3 separate regions of the Homo sapiens genome follow, and regions 1 and 3 are each linked to region 2. The links come from fine-mapping of genetic effects on gene expression. A gene starts in region 2. Each other region holds a variant in brackets. All regions are shown on one strand. Distances are from middle to middle.

The links. PIP is the estimated chance that this variant, and not a neighbour inherited with it, causes the effect.
Region 1: its variant is the best candidate, but not a certain one, in a credible set for the expression of KIAA0930 in whole blood (TOPMed, PIP 0.65).
Region 3: its variant is the best candidate, but not a certain one, in a credible set for the expression of KIAA0930 in whole blood (TOPMed, PIP 0.74).

Annotation. Positions count from the first base shown.
Region 1 is chr22:45,196,705-45,206,252 of GRCh38, forward strand. KIAA0930 reads right to left here. Exons shown (of 10, transcript NM_001009880.2): 3 at 9,089-9,208; 4 at 8,926-9,003; 5 at 8,513-8,614; 6 at 7,141-7,281; 7 at 6,286-6,480; 8 at 3,169-3,331; 9 at 1,086-1,244; 10 at 1-512. The coding sequence ends at 472. MIR1249 (microRNA 1249) reads right to left here and starts at 4,315; the gene lies at 4,250-4,315. RefSeq lists an enhancer at 5,623-5,767 and a cis regulatory region at 5,695. The variant C/T (reference allele first, on the strand shown) is at 1,994.
Region 2 is chr22:45,235,686-45,245,388 of GRCh38, forward strand. It overlaps KIAA0930, which reads right to left and starts at 5,209. Exons shown (of 10, transcript NM_001009880.2): 1 at 4,955-5,209. The coding sequence starts at 5,018. RefSeq lists enhancers at 1-94, 115-194, 255-354 and silencers at 4,783-4,872, 5,023-5,082, 5,243-5,302, 5,333-5,532.
Region 3 is chr22:45,279,235-45,288,937 of GRCh38, forward strand. It overlaps UPK3A (uroplakin 3A), which reads left to right and starts at 5,715. Exons shown (of 6, transcript NM_006953.4): 1 at 5,715-5,831; 2 at 6,707-6,862; 3 at 7,938-8,217. The coding sequence starts at 5,780. RefSeq lists a silencer at 5,536-5,845. The variant G/A (reference allele first, on the strand shown) is at 3,777.

The sequences.
Region 1 (9,548 bases), 39 kb before region 2:
AGTTCATCCGCACGGCATTCCAGAATCTTCCACCGGCTTTCCTCAAGAACATGTGGACAGTCCAATGCACTGAGTGCCCTGGCTGGGTGGTTCCGCCTGCTGCTGGGGGGACGTGAACATAGACCCGCCGCTCTGGCCCCGCTCTGGGCATCAGCTGCTCCTTCCGCTCTCTCTCATGGCCGCTCGGCATCTCTAGTCCTCTTTGGGTGCAGAGGGCTCTCCAGAGATGGGTGGGGGGCGATGGGCGGGGGGCACAGGGCGGAGCAGCGCCAGCAGGGGAGGGAAGAGGCACTTCAGTTTGGGCTGGTGTTCGTGGAGTCGGCCCCGGCCCCGGGAGTCGAGTGGCCTCGCCTGGCTGCGGCTCCAGCACTGGCGTGCCATCGCAGACCCCGGTGGCGGTGGACAGGTAGGCACTTGGCAGCACTCCGAGGGCTGGGCCCGGCCGGGGCTCTGCGCAGGCTCCGCACGCGGCTAGGTCATCAGGATGGGCTTCTGCCGAACTTCCAGGATGTCTAGGGCCGGCAGGAGGGAAGCAGGTGAAACAGTAACCCTCAACAGCGGTGAGTGCTATGGTCACGGCAGTGCCACTTCTGAAGGAAGCCCGCCTCAGCCACTCATGCATCTCCTCTCCAGGCCTCACAGACTGCAGAGGAGACGTGTCTCCACCATCCTCACCCTGCAGACTGGGAAATGGGCTCGCAGCAACGGCACACCCTGCAGGGCCTCAGGTGCAAGCTGGTGTGGGGGCCAGAGCCACTGCCTGTCACAGCTGCTGCAGGCCTGGGTCAGCGAGGTGGCCTGAGAGCCTCCCCTCGCCCGTGAGTAACACACACCTGGGCATCTGTGGCCACTCAAGAGGGGACAGCAGGTGCGCCAGAAAGGTGAACAAAGGGAGGACTTCAGCTCTGGGAAAGCTACGGCTCCACCCAAAGTCTGAGACAAAGAGGCCAAGAGCCCTGCAAAGAAACCCAACCAACCGACAGGACAGGGCGGGATGACTCCGGGTGGCTCACAAGTACCAAGGCCCTGGAGGCAGAGCTGGCTGTGAGAAGGTGCGGCTGCTTCCCCACATCCGCCAGCATTACCTGTTAAAATCCGATGCAGCGGCAACGTGACGTAGGTTAAGTGTGCATAGAGAAGGAAGTTTCCATCTGCTCTGTTCAGCTTCAGCCAGGACCCGACCAGGGACCGTCCTGTGCCCGACAGGGACCGAGACCGCAGGTTGGTTGCATTGTGCAGATCGGCTGGAGGAAAGAAGGCCAGGTCAAGGCCCCCACAGCATGGGACGCGGCGGGAGCAGCAGGAGGCCAGCTCCCAGTCCAGGCTGAGGCCAAACTCTGCTGAGGCCAGGACGCTCCTTACCAACACCCCCACACCAGCACCCACACGCTCCAGAGCTGCTGCCTCCTCGCCTGTAACACCCCTCCCTGCTTCCTCTGGCCCAGACCCAGGCCTCCAACTCCAGGAAGACTTTGGCCACCCCCCTCATCTCTCTCTTCTCTGTCACAAGCTTAGTCTCCTCCGGGGGTTCTGGCACACACACTGTGTAATTCTCTGCTTCTGCAGGCCCTGTCCCTGGAACTAGGCACCGCCACCTGCAGAGCATGGGAGCAGCAAGGCTGAGCCGACCTGCACCATTACCCAGTCCTGCGGTCCAGGCTGGGGGAACCTGCCCCAGAGAGGCAGACTAGGGCAGTGATCAGTACTTCTTACTGATTCGGGAACGGGCCCAGGTGGGGAAGGGGCTTGCCCAAGTTCACACAAGAGCAGGTCGAGGCCAGTGCTGGAGTCCCTGACCCAGGCCAGGGCCTTGAGCAGGTGGGACACCCCTGCTTCTTGGTCCCAGTGGTCAGGACAAAGACTGCCACCTCTTCTGATCAATGCTGCAGCCCTGCTCCCTGCTGGGGGAGGTGCTCAGTGGGAGTTGTCAGCGAATCCTTCACGTCGTTTTTTTTTGTTTGTTTTGAGATGGAATCTCACTCTTGCCCAGGCT[C/T]GAGTGCAGTGGCACGATCTCGGCTCACCGCAACCTCTGCCTCCCAGGTTCAAGAGATTCTCCTGCCTCAGCCTCCTGAGTAGCTGGGATTACAGGCGCCCACCACCATGCCCGGCTAATTTTTTGTATTTTTAGTAGAGACAGGGTTTCACCATGTTGGCCAGGCTGGTCTCGAACTCCTGACCTCAGGTGATCCACCCGCCTCGGTCTCGCTAAGTGCTGGAATTACAGGGGTGAGCCACTGTGCCTGGCCAATCCTTCACTTCCATACACTCAACAGACACGCACACAGTGCGGAGCCAGGCGCCCGCTGGGTCCTGAGGATGACAGTGAGGAAGGCACGTGGTCCATGCCAGCAGAGCATGGCAGAACTTCCCAACCTGTCTGTGACGGCCACGCCTGTCCCCAGGAGCCATTTCCCACAGAGACTGCTGAGTGGCATTTTAAATATGCTAATCTGATTGTGTCACTCCCTTGCTTAAAACCCCTCAGAGGCCTCCCTGGGGGCTCTGGGAACAACTCCTGTATTCTGGAAGGTCACTGAGCGAGGACAGGGAGCAGGCACGGGTGCTCAGGAGAGAGTGCAGACTGTGCCTGGGCAGGACTAAGGGGCATGGTAACACCCAGATACAGACAACCGGAGTCCAGGGGACAGGGGCACAGGAAGGCCCCGGGGGTAGGCTGCACGAGGTGGCGACTGTGTCACCAAAGAGCACGTGGTTCTGGGAGGCTGCACAGAGCCAGGAGGGCCAGGCCTCACCCTGAGGGCGAGCTGGCCCAAGGCAGCGCAAGGGAGGGAAGCCCTCCTCTCTCCCGCCACACCCCGTGTGTGCGGAGCCATCAGATCACCCATCCGCTTTCTTCCTTAAGCAGGCTGAAAAGCCTTAGAAAGGTGGGAAATCCCCTGAAACTGACCAACTGCTGCACATCTGCGCTCCAAGCACTCTGCCAAGGAGACGCCTGAGCCCACCAGGACGGGACCCCCAGAGGCAGCCATTTCTGCCTGTCCCCAGCTCTACCCCTCAGCTCCTGGAGGGCTGCCTGGCACATGGCACCCACTCTCTAAGTGCTGCTGAATGAACAAATGAATGAATGAATAAATGAATGAATGACTGGTCTGGATCAAGAAGAGACTGAAGGGCACGGGGACCCTAGGGCACGGAGTGGGGGGTCACCTCCACCGTCGTCCTCCCGGAAGAACTCCTCGCTGTCGTTGGCCGAGTGCGACTTCTTCATCTCAGCGATCCGGTTCCGGGGCACCTTCCTCTTGAGGGATGGGGAGAAGAAGGCAGGCCGGTTGTTCCGTTCTGGGGTGGGGGGTGTGCTGAAGGAGGTCACCTGGGAACAAGCAGCCAAAGTCACCAGAGTAGCAGAACAGCCCCCTCCCCGGGGGTCCCAACGCCCCTCCTATCCCACCCTCAAACAACCTGACACAGCTCCCAGGGAAGAGGCCGCTGGCCCAGGAGGACCCAGGCCCAGCCGGCCCGTGCTAGGTGGGGCCTAGAGACTGGAAGATGCGTTCCAGCCCAGGGGCCAGCAGGACACCTGGCCACCAGTGCTACCCGAGGAGGGGCCAGGCTGCTGCCGCAAATGGCAGAAAGACCCCCCTCCTCTGGGCCTCAAACAGTGGGTAGGGGGTGTTCAAGCACAAAGTAACAACAGCTGCTGACGCTGAGTGAGCACTGGCCCCACACACAGACCCTCTGAGCCTCCAGCTCCGTGAGACAGGGGCTAGCGTCAGCCCATCTGACACATGGGGAAACTAAGGCAGGGACCGAGACCCTGGCTTGCCTGTGGTCACCAAGCAGGACGGCAGCAGCCCTGTCTTCTGTCCCCCAGGGCCACGCTCCTCATCCTACTTCTCAGGGCTGACGTGGCCCCATCCCTCTCATTCCCAGCACCCTTCACAGGAAATACTGTGCTAAGTAGCTCTATGCCTCTGTCTTCTCCCCACTTCTAATCACGTTTGGTTCTGTTCACCAAACATTCACACCCACTCAGGGCCAGGCAGGCACAGCACTAAGGACAGACAGGCACATTGCAGGTCCCTGCCCTCAAGGAGCTCACAGTCTGCTGGGGTGACAGACTCAGAGAGTGACAACCATAGACAGCATGCTGGCTGTGGAGACAGAGAAAGAGAAGCACAGGATACATGAAGCACAGAGGCAAAAGGGATCCACAGCCTGGGAAATCAGGGAAGGCTTCCTGGAGGAGATGCCGCTGGAGCTGGGTCTTGAAGGACGAGTAGGAGTTCGCCAGGTGAAGAAGGGGGGGAAGGGCGTTCCAGCCAGAGGGAACTTGGCCCATCTCCTCCCTCCTCCCCATGCCAACAATAATCTGAGGAGCAGGATGAGCTGGGACTGAGACTTCGGGAGCCCCGTCAGCCTCCTCGTCACGGCTCCGACATCCACCAAAGTCCTGGCAGCTGCTGGGCTCCAGACGGTGTTCCCACAAGCCGGGGAAGGTTTTTAAAAGATAAAAGAAACAAACAGCAGCAACCACAATACACAGAGTCAGCATGTGTCACGCACTGGCTCCAGACGACCCCGCCAGAGAAGGAGACAGGTAATAGCAGGCGCACAGGCGGCAGTCCCCAGGGGCCAGCCCTGCTGCTGACCCTGTGTGACCCTAGCACATCCCTCCTCCTGAATCCCAGGGCTGCCCAGCTGCTAAGGCACCAGGGACTTTCACACCCCTCACAGCCACTCCCGCTGGACAGATGGGAAAACCAAGGCTCAGGCAGGTCTAGTGACCTGTAGTCACTCAGCCCTCAGGCTGTGGCTGGAGGTGGCACCCGGGTTTGTCCAGCCCAGAGCTCGGGCCACATCTTCGTAAGGACTTTCACACACACATTTTGTCAGAGTCCCAGGGCATAATTTAGGACCAGGGAGAAGAACCAGGCCCTTTATCTCGGAAACAAACTCAGAAATATAAACCACCTCATTCCAAAGACAAGAGAGGCCCCTGCCTGGAATTCTCACCCATCTTTGCAAAAAATAGCACTTGCTGTCTTTGGCTTGCAAAACACATTCATTGCAGAAGATACCTCCCCCCCAAAAAAAGATATACAGAAGAGAAAGAAAACCAACATCTGACCACCCGGAGATATGCATGATTCAGATCTTTCTCGAACTAAAAGTATAACAAACGCACACTCCCTCATCTCAGGCATGCCTGCGGTAATGCATCGTTTACATTCCCACGCCTCTGCTTTCCAAGTAGGTCAACAGCAACTACTGCAGCTGCCACCTGGGAATCCTCCTGAGGGCCAAGCCCCGGATTCCTCAAAGCCTCCCAAATACTGAAGGAGCAGGTATCCTCGTGCCCTGTTTCTAGATGAGAAAACTGAGGCTTGGAGAGGAAAAGAGACACACCCAAGGTTATGAGAGCAGCAGAGCAGGATTCTGGCTGTGGGTGGCGTCTCTCCTGGACAATGGCTGGGCAAGACTGCCCCTGGACCTGTGCCAAGGGCACCCCCCTGCCCAGCACACCTGTACTCTTCCAAGAACTACAGCTCTGGGCAGTCCCTCTGGAAGAACCAGGTAGAGCAAAGCAGCCAGTGGGCTGGAGACCTTCTCCTGCCTGTGCCCCACCAAAGGCTTCTGGGAACAAAGCTGCTGCTGACCTCAGCCTCCCGCCCTGGGGAAGGAGAGTGGCCTAGGCAGAGCAGGGCCCCAAGCCCAGTGCTATCCCAAGAGACCTTGTGACCTGGGGCAAGCTGGCAAGTCTGGTTTCCGGCTGTGCGAGGCAGGAACGCCTCTCCTGCAGCAGAACCTCCTACAAACCGCGGGGCAAAGAGCTGGGTGGCCTAGGCCTCTGCATGCGCTGGCTGACCCTCAGTCACCATCATCCCCATCTGACTCACCGGGGAAGGCCGGCCACGTGCCCACGCTCACCCAGCAGGTCCACCCAGGCAGGCGCCAGGGCCGGGCCTGGGTCCCCAGCCAGTCTCTTCTGCCCACTGGCTCTGTGGACTCAGCCTGGCTTTGTGGCATCTCAGGGAGGCAGAAAGAGCTCTGGCCCAGCACCAGCCTGCGGTGTGACCTTGGCCAGGCACAGCCCTCCAGGTCTGCAAGGCAGGAACGCCTCCCCTGCGGCAGTGCCTCCTACAAACCGCTAGGCAAAGAGAAGGGCTGGGTGGTCCGGGCCTCCGCACGCTCGGCACCTCGGCCTGCGCACTGGTGGTTGGGGATGACAACACCTATGTCCCCAGGGGGCCGTGAGCACGGGGGAGACGGTGGAAAGTGAACTTGACGGATGGGAGCCCCCGCCCCCAGCTGTGCAGCCCTTACCCGCTCGTGCATGGGCGAAGCTGGGCTGGAGTCCTCTTCAGTCCCACAGGGGGATGTGTCACCTGTAGACACTCGGCTGACCGCCATCTCGGCGTGGCCCTTGCCCTGGGGGCCCTTCATGCGCACAAACTCCATGTTGCTGTACTTGTAGAAGCCAAACGACATCTTCTGTGCCATGCGGGCGGCCACGCTCACCTGGGGGCCGGCGCGGGGCAGCCTGAGTCAGGGAGGTGGCGATGGCTCCATGGGGCCCCTCCCCAGGACATGAACAGCCAGGGCGACCATCCCTCAAGGAGCGGGGGCTGCCCGGGAGGGAGCGTCTGAGCTGGCAGGCGGGGCAGCTGGAATGGACCCACATCTCTGCCTGGTGCCCCTCCTGGTGCCCCTCCCACCGCCCCATGAACCACGGACCAGGCTGAGGACAGGGCCCCAGGCTGGCAGCAAGGCTGGCTGCGGATGGTGCCCGCTGGGGGAGAGGGGCCTGCCCACATCTGCTTGCTTAGTTGGGGGCGACTCGGAGCACTCCCAGGGCCAGTCGCAGGAAGCAAGTGACAGTGAGGAGGTGACAGCGACACCATCAGCCATCACTTCCCAGGGAACTAGAGACTGAGGAGGAAGTTCCCGCTCACATTTCAGATGAAGGCAAGTGGCCCGCATGGGCTGAGGCCGACCATGAAGAATGACGTTAAGAGGACCAGGGAGCGCCTAGAAGGAGCCCGGAGGGGCTGCAGGTACCCCTGGCGGCCGCTACCATGCACAAGCAGGCTGGGGGGCCCCATGGTATGGACCACGGTGGGCTGTGGAGCCGCCGTCCCCGGGCCCAGAAGAACACCCGTGAGGCCGCCCCGCACTCACCCGGTTGTCATACACCTTCTTGAGCGCCTCGTAGCGGATGGAGCCCTGAAAGATGACCCCCTGGAACGTGTTGGTTTTGTCACTAGCCACCAGCTCCACACAGACCATCTCTCCTTCCCCTACGGTCATGTCGCTGAACACCTGGGCCAGGACACAAAGAGACAGGGACGTGACCATCAGCTCCCACCGCCCACACCACAGCCTGGCCCAACTGGCAGGGAGGGCTGCTCAGAAAACCCCATTTTGCAGGGGACAACCGGCTGTCACACACTCCTGTGGCCCCATGCCCTCCGAGCCCCACAGGACAAGAACAGCCTCACACTGGGGCAGGGGCTGAGCAGCAGGGGAGGACAGGGACGCTTACGGAGACTCTGGGACTGGCAGAAGACGCACACCCTCATCACGGTTCACCAGGACCGTCAGCCACCGTCTGGGCCCCTCCACACCGCCTAGGGGTGCCCAGCCCTGCCTGCCACATCTTTGAGGCTCCTGTGTGGCCAAAGGCTCAGTGTGGTGGCAGGGTGACTGCCCACCTGGGGTGACAACACCAGACTAAGGTGCCACAGGCCCCATCCTGCCACCTTCCCGAGTCATTGCTCCCAGGACCTGGTGCACAGACTGTGAGCTCCGAGGCCACAAAGACTTAGACGCAAATCTCAGCTCTGCCCTCTAGGAGCTACGTGTGCCTGGGGAGGGGACATGACCTCCCTGAGCCTGCGATTTTCCTGCAGACGCCCACGCCTTCCTCCTAAGTCCTCAGGGCCCTGAGCACCTTGGATGCGCACAAGGACCCCGACCAGGGCCTCAACAGAGGAGAGACACAAATGGGCAGAGCAGGGAGTGAGCTGCGACCGGCTCCCTCCCCGCCCTCCCAGTGCCCTGTGTTTCTCGGTGAGTCTCCTTCTGCCCAAGCCCGTTTCCCAAACCTTAAAACAAAGGCTTGGCCCAGATAACTCCGGAAACCCCATCCCTCTTTGACATCCTAGGATTCCAAGTCAGTGCAGGCGTGGAGGCGCTTCTTTATCATTTACTAGCATTAATAATGGCTCCTCCCGCCCGGGCAGTGCTTCTTGCAAGAGTTTATGAGGCGTCCTCCCACTCAGGAGCCTTTTAGTCTTCAGCCCTGACAGTAAGTAGGACAGATGATCATGACACTGATTTTACAGAGGAGGAAACGGAGGCTGCGCCGGGGAAATTCACCTGCCCACAAGCAAACACTGGGAAGAGAGAGAGCCACATCTGCCTCAGCCGGACTCTTCCCGGCTCCAAGCCACCCATGCCTTTCTGCAAGGCTAAGGCCGCGGGGAGAAGCGCCTAACACCCATCTCACGAGAAGGGGAAGCTAAGGAGAGAGGCCCTGTGCAGAGCTCACCTCCTCGAAGCTGTCAATCATGAAGAAGATGTTGGGGTAGCTGATCTTGGACTCCTCCCCCTTGCTGTCCATGGGGTGTTTACTGGGGGACGCGAACACTTGCTGGAAGAAAGCAGATTTGGAGGACAAGTGAGGCCCCACCCGGCACACAGGCCCAGAGCCAGTCCAAGCCAGTATAGGGAGGCCACCCGGCCCAGAGCCAGTCCAAAGCCAGAGACCTACCAGGAGATGTGGGGGATAAGCTGGTTCTGTGCTCCTCGAATGGGATACGGGATCCCAGGAGCTGAGCAGATTTCTGGAGTCAGACCCCTCACCTCCAGGGCAGAGAAGCAAGCAGGAGGACTTGTCTCTCTCTGCCACGCCCAGCCTGAACTGGCAGTTAGGAGGCTGGGGGCTCTCGTGCCAGGGCTCACCTGAGATTTCTTCTTATGGATGTGAATGTCCCCGCCGTCAGCACGTGTGCACACCGCACAGGTCACCATGTAGTCCAGCTGGAAGAGAGCACGGGTCAGCGTGCAGGGAGGGGTCAGCCATCCCACAGGGCCAATCCGCAGCCCCACCCATCCCACCCCATACCTTCTGCAGGATGAGATTCAGGCAGACGCTCTCCTCCCAGTCGATGTCAGGGTCTCCCAGGCCTGGCAGCTTCTTGGAGTCCCGCCGGTACACCTCCACCTCCACCTCAGGCTCAGCTGCCTGCGAGGCCCAGAGCAGAAGTGAGTGCCCAGGGCCCACTGTGGTGCTCTTCTTCTTCCCTGACTACTATGCAGGCATTACGATGGACAAGGACTCCAATTCTTTTTTCTTACTATTTTTTGAGACAGGGTCTCACACCGCTGCCCAGGCTAGAGAGCAGTGGTGCAATGACAGCTCACTGTAGCCTCAACCTCCTGGGCTCAAATGATCCTCTCACTTCAGCCTCCCAAGCAACAGGGACCACAGGCACGTGCTACCACACCCGGCTAATTTTTAAAACTTTTTGTAGATGTGGCGTTTCGCCATGTTGTCCAGGCTGGTCTTGAACTCCTGGGCTCAG
Region 2 (9,703 bases):
GACTCCACACCAGGGATTTGTGCTGAGCCTGTACCTGCCACGTCTCATTTACTCCCTGTCACTTCTCTCATACAATCCCTAAGTCCCTAGAGAATTTGTGGTCTCCAGTCTACAGATGAGGACACTGAGGCCCGAGGGCTGGAGTGCTTAGCCAGGGCTCACAGTCTTCCTTTCCAGCGGCACCTCCCACTAAAGGCCCCCCGGCCCCCATCACTTATGCCCAGCTACACCTGGCCTAGCAAAGTGATGGCGGGTTGGGGGAGGTGAAGGGTGCACAGCGCTCTTCCCCATTCGCAGGCCTAGCACACACAGGTGTTCAGCACAGAGGCAAGGCCGTCTCCCTCACTCCTCTGGCCCATTCCACGAACCCTTCCGGGTTGGCTATTTGCACATGATGGGCCTCAGCTGGAATGGCAGCCCTGCCACCTGCCAGCTACGTGGCTGTGGGTACATCCCTCCCCACGCTGAAGCTCAGCTTCCTCACCTGCAGAATGAGGTCAAGACAGAACCCACCTCTCCGGGAGCAGGACTGAAGGAAACGCGGCAGGTGTTAGGCACCGGCTCGCGGCAGGCACGCAGCATCCTCTGCACTGATGGCCCCTCCCGTGCAGCCGCCCCACAAATCACACCTGCAGGGCTTCCCGAGGCCAGGGCTGGGAAATACCAAGTTCTGAGCCAGGGATTACTCCAGCCTCGACTTATACAGCCCTGCTTAGAGCAAAGTGAGCTTCTGCTCCTCCATCCACACAAGCCCATCCAGCCTCAGCCCTGCTTGAAGACTACGCTGTCCACAAACCCCTCCCATGGGCCACGCTGGTGGCTCCATTCTCTGTGGCCTCTGGCTAAGTGTTCACAGCTCCACTGGGGTCCTGCCTCCATCCACTGTGGCCAGGCTGCCACACAACCTGGAACACCATACCCTCAGCACCCTGAGGACGGGTCTAGGTGGGCCTCACCTCTGCGCAGGGTTAAGCAATTAAGAGCTTGGGCTCAGCAAGATTCGGCCACTTCCTAGCCTTGCAGCTGGGGGCACCTTACTTCCCCCCAACCTGTGTTCCCTCATCAGGACAAAGAGAAGAACAGAACAATGTCTAGCCCACAGGATTACTCCAAAGACAAAAGGAAAGAATGAACATAAAATGCCCCTTCTCTGCACCACTCCGGACACAGGGAGAATCCCTTAGCCCCAAATGCCAGGCACAAATTGCTCCAAGAATGCTCAGCTGAGGCAGGGCACAGAGACAAGCAGCCGGATGTGGGTCCCACCTGCTCACGGCACCTCTCAGGACTCACACCAGGTCTTGGGCCCAGGTCGCGTCCACGTTACCTGACCAACTGTCGGGTGGGCTGCCCCTGTTGAAAGGGAGCCTGTGTGCTTGGGCTGAGGCCCAGGGCCCAGGAGAAGGCCCAAGCCCCGGGAAGAAGTGGCAGGGTTTGTCCCCCTTCAGTCCAAATGTCTGCATCGCACACCTGGGTCCTGAATCACCTGGTTCATCTGTGACCTGGAGTCATGAGCAGTGTCCTGTGGATGCAACACCAAAATCTTGCTCCGGGCAGCCGCAGCCCCACTGCTTCCAGCAGGGTTTGTACTTCAGCTAACAGTGACCTGTGCTCCTGGCTGTCTCCCCCATGGACTGTGCCCTCCCACAAGGCAGGGATCAGGGCCCAACACTCCCGCCCCCTCTCAGTACAGAGCAAGTGCTCAACTCCCCTTCTACTGCAGAGGCTGCCACAGACAAGCCTCAAAAGCCAGATGTGAAATCTACAAGGTGCCTTTCATCACGAGAGCTGAGCGATGACCCCTGAGTGAGGAGGGCCAGGAGCTTAGTCCCATCTCAGAGACAGACACTGACTCAGAGAATGACAACCACTCAACCAAAGCCCAGCGCCTCCACCTGAGGCTCCCTTGACACCTTCAAAACAACGTCAGAGGACACAGCAGGTTTCTGAGTAACCCAAGCTTTTGCTAAACAACAACAAAAATCTGGGAGATTTAAATTCATTCATAAATCTAACAGGCTGTCACAGAGGTGAAGTGGAGATGATCAAACACAACCCTGCCCCCACAGCTTGAGAGTGTTGATGATTCAGTGGACGCAGAAGTGCTCCGGGGCTGGTGTTCTGGCTCCTCTCAGGACTCACACCTGAGAGGTGAGAGGTGCGCTCCACTCTGGGCATCAAGTTCCTAGTAAGCTCACCCCTCGCTGAACATCAAATCTCTCATCTGAAAAATGAGCCCTTTTTTTTTTTTTTGAGACAGAGTCTCACTCTGTAGCCCAGGCTGGAGTGCAGTGGCGTGATCTCGGCTCACTGCAACCTCCGCCTCCCGGGTTCACACCATTCTCTTGTCTCAGCCTCCTGAGTAGCTGCGACTATAGGCGCCCGCCACCACGCCTGGCTAATTTTTTTTTTTGTATTTTTAGTAGAGACGGGGGTTTCCTCATGTTAGCCAGGCTGGTCTCAAACTCCTGACCTCATGATCCGCCCGCCTCAGCCTCCCAAAGGGTTGGGATTACAGGCATGAGCCACCACGCCCGGCCAAAAATGAGGCCTTCTAAGAAGCTAAGATTCCCATCTCCGTGGCCCTCCACGCCCTTCATCTGCCAGTCCAGATAATAATTTTCTCACTTGTTCACTAAATGTTTACTGGGCACCTGCTCCGTATGTGCCCCATGCTGGGCACCAAGATGAATCAGACTGGGTAATGCCTTTGAAGGCCTCACCTGCTAACTGGGGAGACAGCACACAGACCATGACAAGGCCACAATCATCCTGATTGTCCCAACAAACATGTGCCTGGCACAAAGAGAACACAGGCAGAACAGGACTGTGTGCCTGGGAGCTGGAAAGAGTTCCCGGAGAGGCAACACTGGAGCTGAGACTTAAAGGAAAACTTAGAGATGCTTGTGGGGCACATGAGTAGGGGCGGCTTTCCGGGCAGAGAAAACAGCAGGTTTTCTCTGCTTCAGAGCCCTGCAGGGACTGAGTTCAGCAGCAGGGGAAGAGGGGAGACCTGGCACGTGCGGGAGGCCTGGAGAAGAGACAAGGAAACAGCGTGAGTATCGTAGGCACATAAAGACCTGGCTGGGGATATTCAGGGAGTGGAGGGCAGGCTCTGAGGTCAGGCTGGCAGAGGGTCAGTCCCGGCTATGCTGCTATGCTGCTTCCTCATTGGTTGTCCCTGGGCAGGCTCTCTCTCTCTCTCTCTCTCTCTCTCACCCTCAGGCTCTTCATCGCTGATATGGAGATAATACTGCTCCCTGGCAAAGTCAGCATTGTGTCAGGATTAAATTTGCAGCATGAGTAAAGCACCCGGCACATAGTAAGTGCTCAGTAAATGCTAGGTGCCATTTTCACTGTTCACTGTTCTTCTGGGAATGGCCCTGCAGCCTCCTTGCGGGAGGGGCTGCCTAGAAGAGGAGAGAAGGTGCTCACAGGTAAAGGTGGTCAGAGGACAATAGGTGTGTGTGGACAGGGGAGTGGGGAGGGACTGCTTGAAGCTGCTGAGCAAACAGGGCCAAGTGACCTGCAGCAGATGGTCCTTCAGATGCATCCCAGCTCAGATATTCGGTGCCAGCTGACAGGTGGGCCTGCCACGGTGGCACACAGTAGGTGCTCAATGAATGTTTGCAGAATGAATGAATAAGCACGCTCCAACTTCTGCTCAAAAGTAAATCTTGACACCTTTTCAGAAAGAAACCATTGAAACCTTGTCAACCATTGAAGTTCTTGTCCATTTCACTTCATAAGCACCCCCCACCCCACCCCTGCATGAGGAAAGGCTCGCCTGGGCAGGCTAGGCTGGGGCCTGCTCACTGGGAAGCCTCCCATGCTAAGCCTGCCTCCTACAAAAGGGATTCAAATTTACTTCCTCTCTCCACTCCAGCCTCCAGGGTGTGGCCTGCTGAGGGGCCCTGAATGCCTGGGACTGCCATGTCCCTGCAGCTGTGTGACCTTAGGGGGATGCACTTGTTCTCTGGGACTCAGTTTCCCCAACGGTGAATGAAGGGGTGAATCTGGAAGGCTGACATTCCGTACTCAGCAATGCTGTCACCCCCTCAGAAATCCCCAGCCTAGCCTGGGGGTGGGGTGGGGGGTGGCTGACAATGTGGTATGAAGTCATTCCCTGCACGGAGGAGGGAGGGGTCTTTTCCATGGAGAAAATGACGAACCTGAGACGACAAAAGAGGGGGCTTCTCCTGGGCTTCAGTCTGGGCATGATCCATCAGTAATGGATTACCTCACTGGCTGGGAGACCCCACCCACACCTGCAGTCCCAGGCCCTTCCAAACAATACGAGGCACCCCCATCCCACGCCCCCCAGCAGATCCATGACTTAAAGCCCAGAATCACACCGAGAGGCAGCAGGCCCTGCCCCTCAGCCAAGCGGGCGGGTTCGGGGGGCCATTGCCCAACAGGTCCCTGGATACAGCTAAGGGATGAGAGGGGCCGGTGGGTGCGGAAAGACAAAGGCTTCGGGTAGCAGGAGACAGTGGCCAGGGCACGCTCGCAGCGAGGTCCACCCAGAGCCCAACGAGGGCCCGACCCTGCCGCGCTGGGCTAAGGGTGTACCCAGATCCCACGCCCACACTCCCTACCGCGGTGCTGAGGGCCCGGGGCGGGCTTCCTGGAGAAGGAAGAAGACCCGCAGAGACACGAAGAAGAAGGAGGAAGATGAGACAGACACCCGGACGGACTGACAGGGGGAGACGCCGAATGAGACCCGGGCACAGGGGTGCGGGGCGCTCGTCGGACGGAAAGCAGAGACAGACCCAGATGCAGGGACGGTGGGGGGGGGGCCATGGAGGAAGACAGGGTACCCAGGCAGACCCAGAGACCACGACACCCGCGCAGAGACAGAGATGCGCGGGGCGCACAGAAACACGGACGCGCAGAGGCGGCCCCGGAGACGCTCACCTCTCCCGGCCCGGCCTCGCCCCCGGGTCCCACTCACCGAGGCCGCAGACCTCGCGGCGCAGGCTAAGACGGCCGCGCTCCTCCGCTATGGCACGCAGCATGTGCTGCAGCGAGCGCTCCTCGGCCTCGGCGCCGCCCGCAGGCTCGGGGGCGGCGGCGGCGGGGAGGGCGGGCGGCCCGGCCCGCAGCCCGCCGCGAGCACCAAGGAAGCCACAGTCCGCCTCTGTGCGCGTCGCCGTCGCCGCCGCCGCCGCCACCACCCGCCAAACACAGCACCGGCGAGCGCACCTCCGCGCCGCCGCCGCCCGCGCGCCCCCGGCTCCGCTCGCCCCGCCCCGGCCCGGCCCGGCCCCGGTCCGGCCCCGCCCCTTCCCCGCCCCGGCCCCGCCCCTGTCCCCTCCCGCCCCGCCTCTGAACGGCCCGGACCCACCCCGGCTCCCTGGCCCCGCCCCCTGACCTCCCTTGCCCCGCCCACTTCCAAACGGCCAGTCTCCGCCAATCTTCGGATGCCCAGGACAGCCTCCCTCAAACCGCTCGCGGGGTCCCGCCTCCACCCAAGGTCCTAAACGCCCCACCAACGGGATCACGCCTCTGAGCCCCTCCCGCCGCCCCTTCAGGGCACCTCTCCCCTCCCCCGCTGCTACCCCACGGGATGTGTACTTTGTCACCCGCCCTGTGCGTTGCCACCTCCACCAAGTCCCCTCGGCTGACTTCTGGGAACTTCCTCCGCAGAACCCCTCAAGAGGTCACCTGCTCCCAGAAGGTGGTCTCCTGGGGGACACCGTGGCAAAGCCCTTCCGGCCCCCCTCCTCTGCACCTGGCACAGTGCAGAGTGTTGCGCCTCCATTTCCTCAGCTGCACCATGGGGGACCTTTCCCTGCCTTGCCTCCCCAACATGGGGGAGTGTTGATGAAGGGGGAGGTATGAGGTTAGCTGGGCGTGTCATCCTGATGAAGCCAGGTCTGGCCAGCATCCCTCCGTGTGCTAGTTGTGGCTGATACAGGAAGACACCGGAGAAGCAGCCAGTGGCCTCCCCAAACCTCACGCCTGGTGGTCCATTTCCAAGAACAGGGGGAGATGGAGAGACCAGCATTGATTTCCAGGTCTCTCCAAAGCTAAATCTACATCACTCCCTGCATTCACAGCCTGTGTGTGGACCCCAGACCCATCAAGGTCCCCCTTTCCCCTGTCTGGAGTCCTCTTCTCCCCATTCCTGTGTAACTTGCTTCCTTTGTGTCCCGAGTGTCACATCCTCAAAGAAACTCCCCTGACCGCCTTCCCTCCCTCTCTCTTCCCTTAGTCTGTTTCTCCTTCACAGGGTGACACTTACCTCCTCCCGACACATTGGATACCTATGGGTTCACTTGTTCTCTTCTCTACCGAGGGAGGGGCCTGTCTACTACACAGCTGTTGTCTCAGTACCCAGAACATTGCCTGGCACACATTAGATGCCCAATAAATAGATATGGGCTGCAGGCTGGGCACAGTGGCTCATGCCTGTAATCCCAACACTTTGGGAGGCCGAGGTAGGTGGATTGCCTGAGGTTAGGAGTTCCAGAACAGCCTGGCTAAAATGGTGAAACCCCATCTCTACTAAAAATACAAAAATTAGCCGGGCATGGTAGCACACATTTGTAATCCCAGCTACTCTGGAGGCTGAGGCAGGAGAATTGCTTGAACCTGGGAGGCGGAGGCTGCAGTGAGCCGAGATCCCGCCACTGCACTCCAAGCTGGGAGACAGAGCAAGACCCTGTCCCCCCCCAAAAAAAAAGAAAAGAAAAGAAAAAAAAATGTAGGCTGCATAAACGAAGAATGATGGAGAGGTCTGATGGGGACGCAGGGGTCTTCCTGGGAGGCACAGCAGGAAGGAGCCGTGGGGTTGGGCAGAGCCCCAGAAGGGAGATGGGATCTGGATCCTGCTTCAGGCCTCTGCCCCAGTTTTGTGCCACTGGCCCCTGAACTCTTCAGAGCAGAGCCACATCTGACCCCTCTGTGTCCCCAGTGCCAGGCCCAGGAGGGCTCTGTAGAAAGGTGAGCAGTGAGGGAATGAAGGAAGTGCGCGACCAGCCTCACGTGTATTTCTCTTCTCCAGTGGGCCTGCATCCCTGTCTGTAAAGTGAGGACACTGGCATGAGGGCTGAGGCCTCTGGTTCTGCGTCTGGAGAGCTGGGGTTTGGGCTGGTGGACGTGAGAACTGGGGATGGTGGATCAGACAGCATGAGCGAGTGCTCCAAGGCTGTCAAGTCCAATAGTCACATCCCTCTTTGCCTCCCCAAACCCCACAGCACCCCCTGCCTGTTCCCACTGCCATGCGTTTGCCCACAGTGTTCCCTTGGCCTGAAATCCTTTCTGCTCCGCAACTGTAGTTGCCTTTGGGACCCACATTGCCTGGTTACGCTTGGCCAATGCATTGTGTTCTTATTTGCTTCACAAACCCCCTTTCCCCACCCCACCCTCCTGCACACAGTTGCCTCCGTGTATTCTGTGTCATATGACCAGCATTGAACCAATTCATCCCACTTCCCGTGGCACCCAGCCCAGGACTGGTGCCAGAAAAATATCTGTTGAATGAATGAGTAAACAAACATCGCTTGGGCTCTCTCCTTTGTATTTCAATAATACTCCAGGTATTACCTATACACAGAATTTTCTTTCTTTCTTTTTTTTTTTTTTTTTTTTTGAGGCGGAGTTTTGCTCTTGTTGCCCAGGCTGGAGTACAATGTCGCGATCTCGCCTCACCGCAACCTCCACCTCCCAGGTTCAAGCAATTCTCTTGCCTCAGCCTCCCAAGTAGCTGGGATTACAGGCATGTGCCACCACGCCCGGCTAATTTCATGGAGATGGGGTTTCTCCATGTTGGTCAGGCTGGTCTCGAACTCCTGACCTCACATATACACAGAATTTTCTAATGTCAACAAATGCTAAATCACACTGTGCATGGGAAGAGGGCAGGAGCAGGACTTCTGGGGCTACAGAGCATGTTCTGTTTCTTGATCTGGGGGCTGGTTACACGGGTGTGGTCAGTTTATGAAAATTAAAAGGCTGCACAGCTGGGCATGGTGGCTCACGCCTGTAATCCCAGCACTTTGGGGGGCCAAGGCGGGCAGATCACCTGAGGTCGGGAGTTCGAGACCAGCCTGGCCAACCTGGCGAAACCCCATCTCTACTAAAAATACAAAAATTAGCTGGGCGTAATGGCACACACCTGTAGTCCCAGCTATTCTGGAGGCTGACGCAGGAGAATCGCTCGAACCTGGGAGGCAGAGGTTGCAGTGAGCCGAGATTGTGCCACTACACTCCAACCTGGGCAACAGAGCGAGACTCCATCTCAAAAAAAAAAAAAAGTTAGAAAATCAAAAGGCTGTGTGCTGTGGTTCAAACCTGTAACCACAGCACTTTGGGAGGCCAAGGCAGGCAGGAGGCTGGCTTAGGCCCAGGAGTTTGAGACCAGCCTGGCCAACATAGCAAGACCTCATCTTTACAAAAAAAAAAAAATTAGCCAGGTGTGATGACACACGTCTGTGGTCACAGCTACTCAGGAGGCTGAGGTGGGAGGATTGCTTGAGGCGGGGAAGTCAAGGCTGCAGTGAGCCGCGATCACACTGCTGCACTCCAGCCTAGGCAACAGAGTGAGACCTGGTCTCAAAAAAAAAATATATATATATGTATATATAACATATATATATGTAATATATATAATATATATGTTATATATGTAATATATGTATGTAATATATATATAAAGCTGGCATTTTGTAATTATTTATGCACTTTTCTGTATACAAATATTCAGAATATAAAATAGAATTGAAAGTATATAGGCAGAATAATGGCCCCAAAATGCCCACACCCTAATTCCTGTGCTAATTCCTGTGAATATGTTGCCTTACCTGGCAAAATGGACTTTGCTGACGTGATTTTTTGTTTGTTTGTTTTCGAGACAGGGTCTCACTCAGTTGCCCAGGCTGGAGTGCAGTGGCACGATCTTAGCTCACTGCAACCTCCACCTCCCCAGCTCAATCCATCCTCCCACCTCAACCTCCTGAGTAGCTGGGACTAAGGGTGTGTGCCACCACACCCGGCTATTTTTTGTATTTTTTGGTAGAGACAGGGTTTCACCATGTTGGCCAGGCTGGTCTCGAACTCCCGACCTCAAGTGATCTGCCCACCTCGGGCTCCCAAAGTGCCGGGATTACAGGCATGAGCTGCCACATGGGGCCTAAGAGTACAGACACTGAGATAGGGAGACTATCCTGGGTTATCCAAGTGGGCCCAATCTCATCACATAAATTCTTAAAATCGGGGAACATTTCCTGGCTGTGGTCAAAAAGAGATGTGACAACACAAGAATGGTCAGGTAAATGCAATGTTGCTGGCACTGAAGAGGGAGGAAGGGGCCACAAGACAAGGCATACAGGCAGCTTCCGGAAGCTGGAAGAGGCAAGGAAACAGATTCTCCTACAGTTGCCCCCAGATATGACACAGCCCTGCCTGCACCTTGACTTTAGCTCAGCAAGACCTCAGTTGAACTTCTAACCTACAGAACTGGAAATGTGTTAAGGCAATAACGTTGTAGTAATTATTACAGCAGTGATACCAATACGTGGGCAAGCCTGAGATGTGGGCATTGTGTCAGCTCTCCACCTAAGCGCTTCTATCCCTGAGGTTTATTTTGCAAACACTTAGAACAACAATCAAGCAAAGTTTAGCAGAAAGAAAAAACAACCACAATCCAATTGCTTTAATAGGTCAGTCTTGCTTCATTTTTCAGAGTTCCTGCCCGGGG
Region 3 (9,703 bases), 44 kb after region 2:
AGCCAGCACTTGCTGTGGTGGGATTCCTGCAACTTCTCTGACTTCTGAAGAGAGGAGTCATGGAAACCGACTGGACCCGGGCTCTTCAGTGTTTGGAGAGACATTTCTGGGTCAAGAATTTCCAGCCCATAAATTCCCCATGCTTCAGATTCAAAGGAGGTCTGTGAAGGGCTGGGCTTTGCTTAACCTTTCACATCGCAAAACTTCCTGCCTCTCTGGCCTCAGACAAACACATCCTCCAGGCCAGGGTTCAGAAGGACGGTCTGATGGATCTAGATGTATAAATGACCTCAAGTCAGACTGAATCTGAGTGCTCTAGAAGTGGCCTGATCAAAAAGGAAACATTAAAAAAAATTTTTTTTTAACTTTGGGCTGGGCACAGTGGCTCATGCCTGTAATCCTAGCACTTTGGAGGCCGATGCAGGAGGATCAGTTGAGCCTGGGAGTTTTAGACTAGTCTGGGAAACATGGTGAAATCCCACCTCTATAAAAATACAAAAATTAGCTGGGTGTGGTCGCCCCTGCCTGTAATCCCAGCTACTAGAAAGGCTGGGGTGGGAGGATAGCTTGAGCTCAGCGAGGTCGAGGCTGCAGTGACCAGGGATCATGCCAGTGCACTCCAGCCTGGGTGACGCAGAGAGATCTTGTCTCAAAAAAAAAAAAAAAAGAAAAAAACAAATAAACTTAGGAAAGTGCACGTGGAGCAGCAAGGGACACTGGCAGGTGTCAGGCCCCCTTTTTCTCCTGTTTCCCCTCCACTGACACAAGCAATGGTCTCTCCCAAGTGAATTTCCCACCATGACTCATTTCTCCTGTACTTCCCCCTCTTCAGAATGAGCCAAACAAAAGTCAGCAATCTTTGAAGTGGACATTTGTTTATAAATCTAAGATTTTTTTCTTTCCAGAACATGTTTTGGGCCTTTGCAGATTATTGTTTTAACATTTTCCTTCAAATGTTCTCCCCATATTTGGGCAAGGCAAGAGACAAGAGGACTTTTTGGGGTTTTTGTTTTTTTTTTAAAGAAACTGCAGCGTTTTGGAGAAAACAATTTCCTGGGCCTACTTCCTCTCACAGGTGATTCTGAGCTGGGCCTTTAAGATCAACCCTGCTGAGGCCAGGCACGGTGGCTCACACCTGTAATCCTTGCACTTTGGGAGGCTGAGGCTGGTGGATCTTGAGGTTAGAAGTTCAAGACCAGCCTGGACAACATGGTGAAACCCTGTCTCTACTAAAAATACAAAAATTAGCCAGATGTGGTGGTGCACACCTATAGTCCCAGCTACTTGGGAGGCTGAGGCAGGAGAATGGCTTGAACCTGGGAGGCGAAGCGTGCAGTGAGCCGAGATCGCCCCACTGGACTCCAGCCTGGGTGAGAGAGCAAGACTCCATCTCAAAAAAAAGAAAATCAACCCTGCTGGCCTCTGATAAACTGCAGGTTCACAACCAGGTTCACAAACAATTGTTGAACAAGAAATGTCAGTCTATAAAAATTCTTGGAAGAAAACCGCAGCCCTGTTCAAGAGTTCCTTACCTCTGGGACATTTTCTGTGTGCTGAAGATAAGGATCTGATCATCCGCTCTCTGCATGTCAGGGCTGAGAGGTGACCAAACTCCCTCCCCACTTTCTAGAAGGTAAACCGACACCCAAAGAGGGGAACAGTGCATTTCTGTGGCAGAGAACAGACTCTGTCCCCCAACATTTTCACTTTGAAAAATGTCAAACCTACAGAAACATTTCAAGAACACTACAGTAAATACTCATACTTATTTACCAATTGCTAACATTACACTAAATTTACTTTCTCTTTTTCTCTCGAATCTCATATATATGTTAGTTTCAGGTATCATGACACTTTATCCACATGCAAGCTGGGAGGATCCCTTGAGGCCAGGAGCTAGAGACCATCCTGGGCAACATAGTGAGACCCCATCTCTACCAAAAAAAAAAAAATCAAAAAAAACTTGCTCAGCCTGGTGGTGCATGCCTGTAGTCCCAGGATTGCTTGAGTCCAGGAGGTCGAGGCTACAGTGAACTATGATCTTGCCACTTTGAGCTATGATTAAAGCTGCAATAACAGAGCCAGACCCTATCTCTTAGAAAAAGGATAAAGAAAATCAGCAGAAACTAATTAATTTCTGTATGACGTTGATGACATAACCTCACTGGCAGAAAAAGAATAAAACGATCTGAGTAATTATAGAGCTGGGTTGTCCAGGGGTACCTCCTTAGTGGAGTACACTCTAAGAACTGGGAGGCCTGTGACAGAACCCCAAACCTCACTAGTGACTTTGTTATTGGCAGTGGGGAGGGCGGAGCCATTGTGAAGCAACTTTGGGTTATCCTAGGATTGGTGGTACCAGAACCCAGATTCTCACTGTAGGATGAGGGAGATTTGGAATGGAAGAAGGAAAATGCTGGTGTTTTGTTATTTGTAATTAGTTATGGAAAAAAATTACTAAAACAAGATTTTTAAGTGAAAAGAAAAGAAAAAGGCTGGCCAGGCACAGGCCTGTAATCCCAGCACTTTGGGAGGCTGAGGCGGGTGGATCACTTGAGGTCAGGAGTTCGAGACCAGCCTGGCCACATGGTGAAACCCCGTCTCTACTAAAAATACAAAAAAATTAGCTGGGCATGGTGGCGTGCGCCTGTAGTTCCAGCTACTCAGGTGGGTGGCTGAGGCAGGAGAATCTCTTGAACCCAGGAGGTGGAAGTTGCAGTGAGCCAAGATCACCCCATTGCACTCCAGCCTGGGCAATAGAGTAAAACTGTCTCAAAAAAAAAAAAAAAAAAAAGAAAGAAAGAAGGAAGGACAAAGAAAGAAGAAAGAGAGGAAGGAAGGAAGGAGAAAGAAAGAAAGAAGGAAGGAAGAAAGGAAGGAAGGAAGGAGAAAGAAAGAAGGAAGGAAGGAGAAAGAAAGAAGGAAGGAAAGAAAGGAAGGAAGGAAGGTAGAAAGAAAGAAAGAAAGAAAGAAAGAAAGAAAGAAAGAAAAAGAAAAAACTAGGTTCATTGAGACAGACCGAGAAGCAGTAATACCCAGTTGCAAGAGGCACCTTGCCACTGTTAGATCTTAAACTCCAGTCTCCAGTGAAAGGCACCAGTGCCCCTTGGAGAGATGGCTGAATCCAGAGCTGGGACAGGGAATGTCAAGAGGAGCCCGGGACATTTTATTGTGCCAGAAAGTAAAGAGGTTCTCAAAGAATGGTGGGAGCGTGAAAGCAGCTAGCACAGAGCTGCTGGAAGGAGCTGCCAACAGCCAGGCCTGGGAACATTTGAGCACAAAATAAATAATGGAAGTCATACATTCAGCTTGCTTTTTTTTTTTTTTTGAGACGGAGTCTCACTGTGTCACCCAGGCTGGATTACAGTGGCACGGCGCGATCTCAGCTCACTGAAACCTCCACCTCCTGGGTCCAAGAGATTCTCCTGCCTCAGCCTCCCAAGTAGCACTGATTAGAACTCACCGTCATGACCATGTCCTGCCCAAAAGGTTTAACTTGAATTTCATCAATAGGAAACCATCAGACAGATCCACATGCAGGGACTTTCTGCAAACCAGCTGGACTGGATGCTTTGCAAATGTTCACATCAGGAAAGACAGAAGCAAAACAAAACAAAAGGCTGAGAACTGTCTGATGGTTTCCTATTGATGAGATTCAAGTTAAACCTTTTGGGCGGGACATGGATGTCCAAGTAGCTGGGACTACAGGCGCCTGCCACCACGCCTGGCTAGTTTTTTGGGTTTTTTTGTATATTTAGTAGAGAAGGGGTTTCACT[G/A]TGTTGGCCAGGCTGGTCTCAAACTCCTGACCTCATGATCTGCCCACCTCGGCCTCTCAAAGTGCTGGGATTACAAGCGTGAGCCACCGCATCCAGCTGGGGAAAGATTTTTAGGGATCAAGGGCCGGGCGCGGTGGCTCACGCCTGTAATCCCAGCACTTTGGGAGGCTGAGGTGCGTGGATCACAAGGTCAGGAGATTGAGACCATCCTGGCTAACACAGCGAAACCCCGTCTCTACTAAAACAATACAAAATATCAGCCAGGCATGGTGGCAGGTGCCTGTAGTCCCAGCTACTCGGGAGGCTGAGGCAGAAGAATGGCGTGAACGTGGGAAGTGGAGCTTGCAGTGAGCCGAGATCACGCCACTGCACTCCAGCCTGGGTGACAGAGCAAGACTCCGTCCCCCCCAAAAAAAAAAAGAAAAAAAAGATTTTTAGGGAACAAGACATACATTAATCCAGAGATACCAACTTTACCAAATGATGAAATGGAACATCCCCAATAATGGGACACACTGACCTCATGTGCTTCCTTCCTCCATTCCAAATCTCCCTCATCCTACAGTGAGAATCTGGGTTCTGGTACCACCAATCCTAGGATAACCCAAAGTTGCTTCGGAATGGCTCCGCCCTCCCCACTGCCAATAACAAAGTCACTAGTGAGGTTTGGGGTTCTGTCACAGGCCTCCCAGTTCTTAGAGTGTACTCCACTAAGGAGGTACCCCTGGACAACCCAGCTCTATAATTACTCAGATCGTTTTATTCTTTTTCTGCAAGTGAGGTTATGTCATCAACGTCATACAGAGATTAATTAGTTTCTGTTGATTTTCTTTATCTTTTTTCTAAGAGACAGGGTCTGGCTCTGTTATTGCAGCTTTAATCATAGCTCAAAGTGGCATGATCATAGTTCACTGTAGCCTCGACCTCCTGGGCTCAAGCAATCCTGGGACTACAGGCATGCCCCACTAGGCTGAGCTAATTTTTTTTTTTTTTTTTTTGGTAGAGATGGGGTCTCACTATGATGCCCAGGATGGTCTCTAGCTCCTGGCCTCAAGGGATCCTCCTATCTTGACCTCCCAAAGTGTTGGGATTACAGGCATGAGCCTCCTTGCCCCTCTTCTGTTGTTTTTTTCCTATCCTTGTTGACTTACTTTTATTTCTTAAATGTAAAATTGATTTAAGGTGCATCCAGAGATGTGCACAGATTCTTGTGATGGAGGGAACCGCACAGTCATGGTGAGGAGTCCATCATAATTTTCAAACGCCCCTTTAAGAAGTAGGCATTAACACCCTGCTCCATCCCTTTGGAGGCAGCCCTGGGCTGAGCACTGGACTCCTGGGTTCCACCAGCCTCAGTGTCTCCAGGAGACCAAGCGCGGCCGGGGGTGAGTCCCTGTCCCCGCGCCCCCCACCACGCTCCAATACTTACCCCCTGCCCCACCCCCCAGCCTCCCGGGCCTTGGCTTGTACCTGTGAACCGAAGGGGTCATACTAGGCGTCATACTAGGGTCTCTGGATAGCTCCCAGGCCTGGACTTCGTTTTCCAGGATATCACCTTTACTGGTCAACCCATTTTGTTTCGCGAGTGCCCAGTGAGTGTTTGGCACGTAATAGAGCCTCCATAAATAGTTGTAGAAATTAGCGTCATTTTACAGTATGGAAACTGAGGCTCCAAGTGGGAGTGGCTTGCCCTCAAGGTCCCATTGGTGAGAGACGCTGTGGAAGGGCTGCCCTGGCCTGGGCACACAGTAGGCGCTTTGATGCGGGCTGGAGAAGGTCCTGCCCGGTGGGATTGCGCCCTGGGGCACCGCGCACGGGTCGGGGAAGCCCGGGGCAGGGCCGTATGCAAATAGCGCGCGAGGAGGCCGCGGATTGGCCAGCCCAGGCGGGGGCGGGGCGCGCCGAGGGCCCAGAGCTGGCAGGTGCCCTGGCAGGGACAGGTCTGGTGCCCGCGCCTGCTCGCTGGACCGCCCGCCCCGCGCTCTGGCGGCTCCTCCCGGGCGATGCCTCCGCTCTGGGCCCTGCTGGCCCTCGGCTGCCTGCGGTTCGGCTCGGGTAGGCGGTGAAGGGCAGGAGGGGGCTGAGCCCAGAAAGAGCGGGCAGCTCTGCCCTGGGGCGCCCGCCGCCTGGACCCTGATTCCTGGCGCTGGGGACCCAGATATTACTGTTATGAATAATAGTGATAGCCAACGTTTACGGGCCTCCTCTGTTGGGAATCCGAGGGCTCACAGATGGCTGCAGCCCTGCGATGTGTGTTGCAAGAGACCAACATGCAGGGGGGCTGCGGTAGGACAGAGAAGGGACTAGCCCCAGCCCCATGGTGACGCCTGGACGGGGGCAGATAGAGAGATATTTCGGCCGAGGAAGCAGCATGGGCAAGTTCATGGAGGGGAGACAATATTGGGCTGTCCTGGGAACTGCCAGTCCATGGGACCAGCTGGAGCCTGGGGTGAGGGGAGCCTGTGGGGGAAGGGGTGAGGCTGGAGACCGAACAAAGCAAAGCCCAGAACTTCAGGACCTCACTGCCTTTCCAGAGAGGCTGGACTTCGTCAGGGGGCGCTGGGGGACCATGGGAGGGCCATAGCCAGAGAATGAGGCAGTCAGACTTGCATGTGGGGGGAGGGCCCAGGTGAGGAAGGTGGGACGGAGGAGGGCTGGGCCGATGGCATGGAGAGATGCTTAGGAGGGGCAGTGGAGTTCTTGGCAACTGAGTGTCTGCAGCAGGGAGAGAAGGCAGCAGTTTGGCCCGACCGCTCCATTTCTGAGCAGGATGACTGGGCAGGGGGCAGTGTCTGAGACAGCTTATGCGGTGGCCCAGGGGGAGGGTGAAGCCCAGGGCCTGGCACACAACACGTGCTCAGTAACTGCAAGCAGAGTGGGTGTGGACAGTTCTGCCGGAGGTCAGTTCCCATCCTCACTGCCTCCTCCAGCTGTGAACCTGCAGCCCCAACTGGCCAGTGTGACTTTCGCCACCAACAACCCCACACTTACCACTGTGGCCTTGGAAAAGCCTCTCTGCATGTTTGACAGCAAAGAGGCCCTCACTGGCACCCACGAGGTCTACCTGTATGTCCTGGTCGACTCAGGTAAGGGTCCTGCTTCCCTCTGGCTACTCCAAAAGGGGCTCTGACCTGTCTGCAGGGAGGAGGGAAGGAGGCAGATAGAGGAACCCTCCATGCCTGTAGTCGTCTCATTAAACAGGTACTGCAGCCACAGACCTGTCCTTGCCTTGCAGGGACATCCAGTTAGTGAGGGAAGTAATAACACCACCAGTCACTGAACACCTACACCATACCAGGCACTTTGCACACCATAGAGCTAGTATCTACAACCAGCTTGTAAGGTAGCTATTACCAATCCCCATTACAGAGCAGGGAAGCAAGGCTCAGAGAGGTGGAATAACCCCCCCTGGACCTCCCAGGGCTGGAGAGTGAATCCTGATCTCTCTAGTCCCCAAGCCCAAGGTCCTTCCTGAGGCTTCGAAAGGTGGCTCAAGATTGGTGTTTCTGAGACAAAACCATGCATTTGGACCTGCTGCTGTGGCCCAGCCCCAACCCCTGCCCTGGAGGGGATCCTGAGCTTCTGAGACAAGCCAACATCAACTCTTGCATTTCTAGCAGCCAGTCATTTACAACAGCTCATTCGGGACCATCCTTTTCTTCTTTCAGCATGTGTTTATTGACTATAAACTAAAGTGCCTGATCTCCGGGCACTGTAGGGAATTTCTCTCCCATTTCATAGAAGACTAGGGTCTGAAGAGGTAGAGTGAGTTGTCCAAGGTCACCCATCTAGTAAGGAGGAGAGCTGGGTCCTGCCTCCACGTTATTTCCCTTGGACCGATGACCTTCCTTTCCCATTTTACACAAGAGAGAATCCAGGGCTTTCAGCAATGAAGAGACAAAGGTCTGTTGGGATGGGGGGTTGCAGGAATGTCACAAGATAAGGCGAGAGTCAGACACAGCGCCCAAAGCAGGGAGGTGATCCTTGTCCATCTCCCACATTGCACTGAGAGGGCAGAGACTAAGTTTGCCCCATGCCTGTGATGCCAGTGCCCAGCACAGAGCTGGGGCAGAAAGGATGATCAGGCATTTGATGAATAACTGAGTGAGTGTCGCTGAGCCGGAGTGGCCAGAAGCCTGACTCCCTGCACCGCCTCTGCAGCCATTTCCAGGAATGCCTCAGTGCAAGACAGCACCAACACCCCACTGGGCTCAACGTTCCTACAAACAGAGGGTGGGAGGACAGGTCCCTACAAAGCTGTGGCCTTTGACCTGATCCCCTGCAGTGACCTGCCCAGCCTGGATGCCATTGGGGATGTGTCCAAGGCCTCACAGATCCTGAATGCCTACCTGGTCAGGGTGGGTGCCAACGGGACCTGCCTGTGGGATCCCAACTTCCAGGGCCTCTGTAACGCACCCCTGTCGGCAGCCACGGAGTACAGGTGGGTGTAAACAAACCACTACAGGAGAGCCGCGGCAGTTCCCCAGTCCTGATGAGGGAGAGCAGGGGCAAAGTAGGAGCAGCCACACTTCTTGAGAACTTATATGCTGAGAACATCCCAGGTTCCAGGCAGGCCACGCTGAGCCTCAAGTTCAGAAGAGGCCCCTCTTGGATTGACGCTCTGCAACTACCGTCTTGAAATTCTGTATTTTATTTATTTATTTATTTTTTGAGACGGGGTCTCCACCATTTCCCAGGCTGGAGTACAGTGACACAATCTCAGCTCACTGCAACCTCCGCCTCCCAGGTTCAAGCGATTCTCTTGCCTCAGCCTCCCGAGTAGCTGAGATTACAGGTGCACACCACCATGCCCGGCTAATTTTTTGTGTTTTTAGTACAGATGGGGTTTCATCATGTTGGTCAAGCTGGTCTCGAACTCCTGACCTCCAGTGATCAGCCTGCTTTGGCCTCCTCCATAGTATTGGGTTACGGGCGTGAGCTGCCATGCCTGGCCCATCTTGAAATTCTTAATTGTTGAACAAGGGCCCACATTTTCATTTTGCTCTGGGGCCCACAGATTATGCAGCTGGTCCTGGCCCATCTACGTGTGTGGAAGTCACCCACCCAAACCCCTTCGTCTTACAGGAAAGGAAACTGTGCCAGAGAGGGAAGGTCACCCAGTGGAAAGCTGGGGCCCAGCATGAACAGAAACCCTACCAAAGCCTTGCCATCTGCAGCCTCAACTTCTGCTTTTTTTTTTTTGAGATGGAGTTTCGCTCTTGTTGCCCAAGGTGGAGTGCAGTGGTGCAATCTCGGCTCACCACAACCTCTGCCTCCCGGGTTCAAGCGATTCTCCTGCCTCAGCCTCCTGAGTAGCTGGGACTACAGGCGCCCCCACCACGCCTGGCTACTTTTGTTTTTGTATTTTTAGTAGAGACGGGGTTTCACTGTGTCAGCCAGAATGGTCTCGATCTCCTGACCTCATGATCCGCCCGCCTCAGCCTCCCAAAGTGCTGGGATTACAGGCGTCAGGCACTGCGCCCGGCCCATTTTTGTATTTTTAGTAGAGACAGGGTTTTGCCATGTTGGCCAGGCTGGTCTCGAGCCCCTGACCTCAGGTGATCTGCCCGCCTCAGCCTCCCAAACTGTTGGGATTACAGGCGTGAGCCACCATGCCCAGCTTCAGCCTTTTTCTTTTTCAGTTTTCTTTGTGATGCCAAGGAGCAGGCTTGGAGTCACGGAAGGCAGAAATGCAAGGAAGACAGATGCATTAGTGCTCAGCAACTATGCCACGTGTGTTACATGGAGGAAAGAAATGGAGGGGAGCTCTAAGAGGGAGCGCCTAGAAGGGCAGCTTCTGATTCTGAAGGCTTCATGGATGCAGGAGGTGGCAGCTGATCCAGGGAGGGGTCCTGGGGGGGGTCCTATTGGCCAAGCTCAGCACTGTCCTGTTGCCCAGAGCCCGCTCAGTAGCCGTCTACATTTCC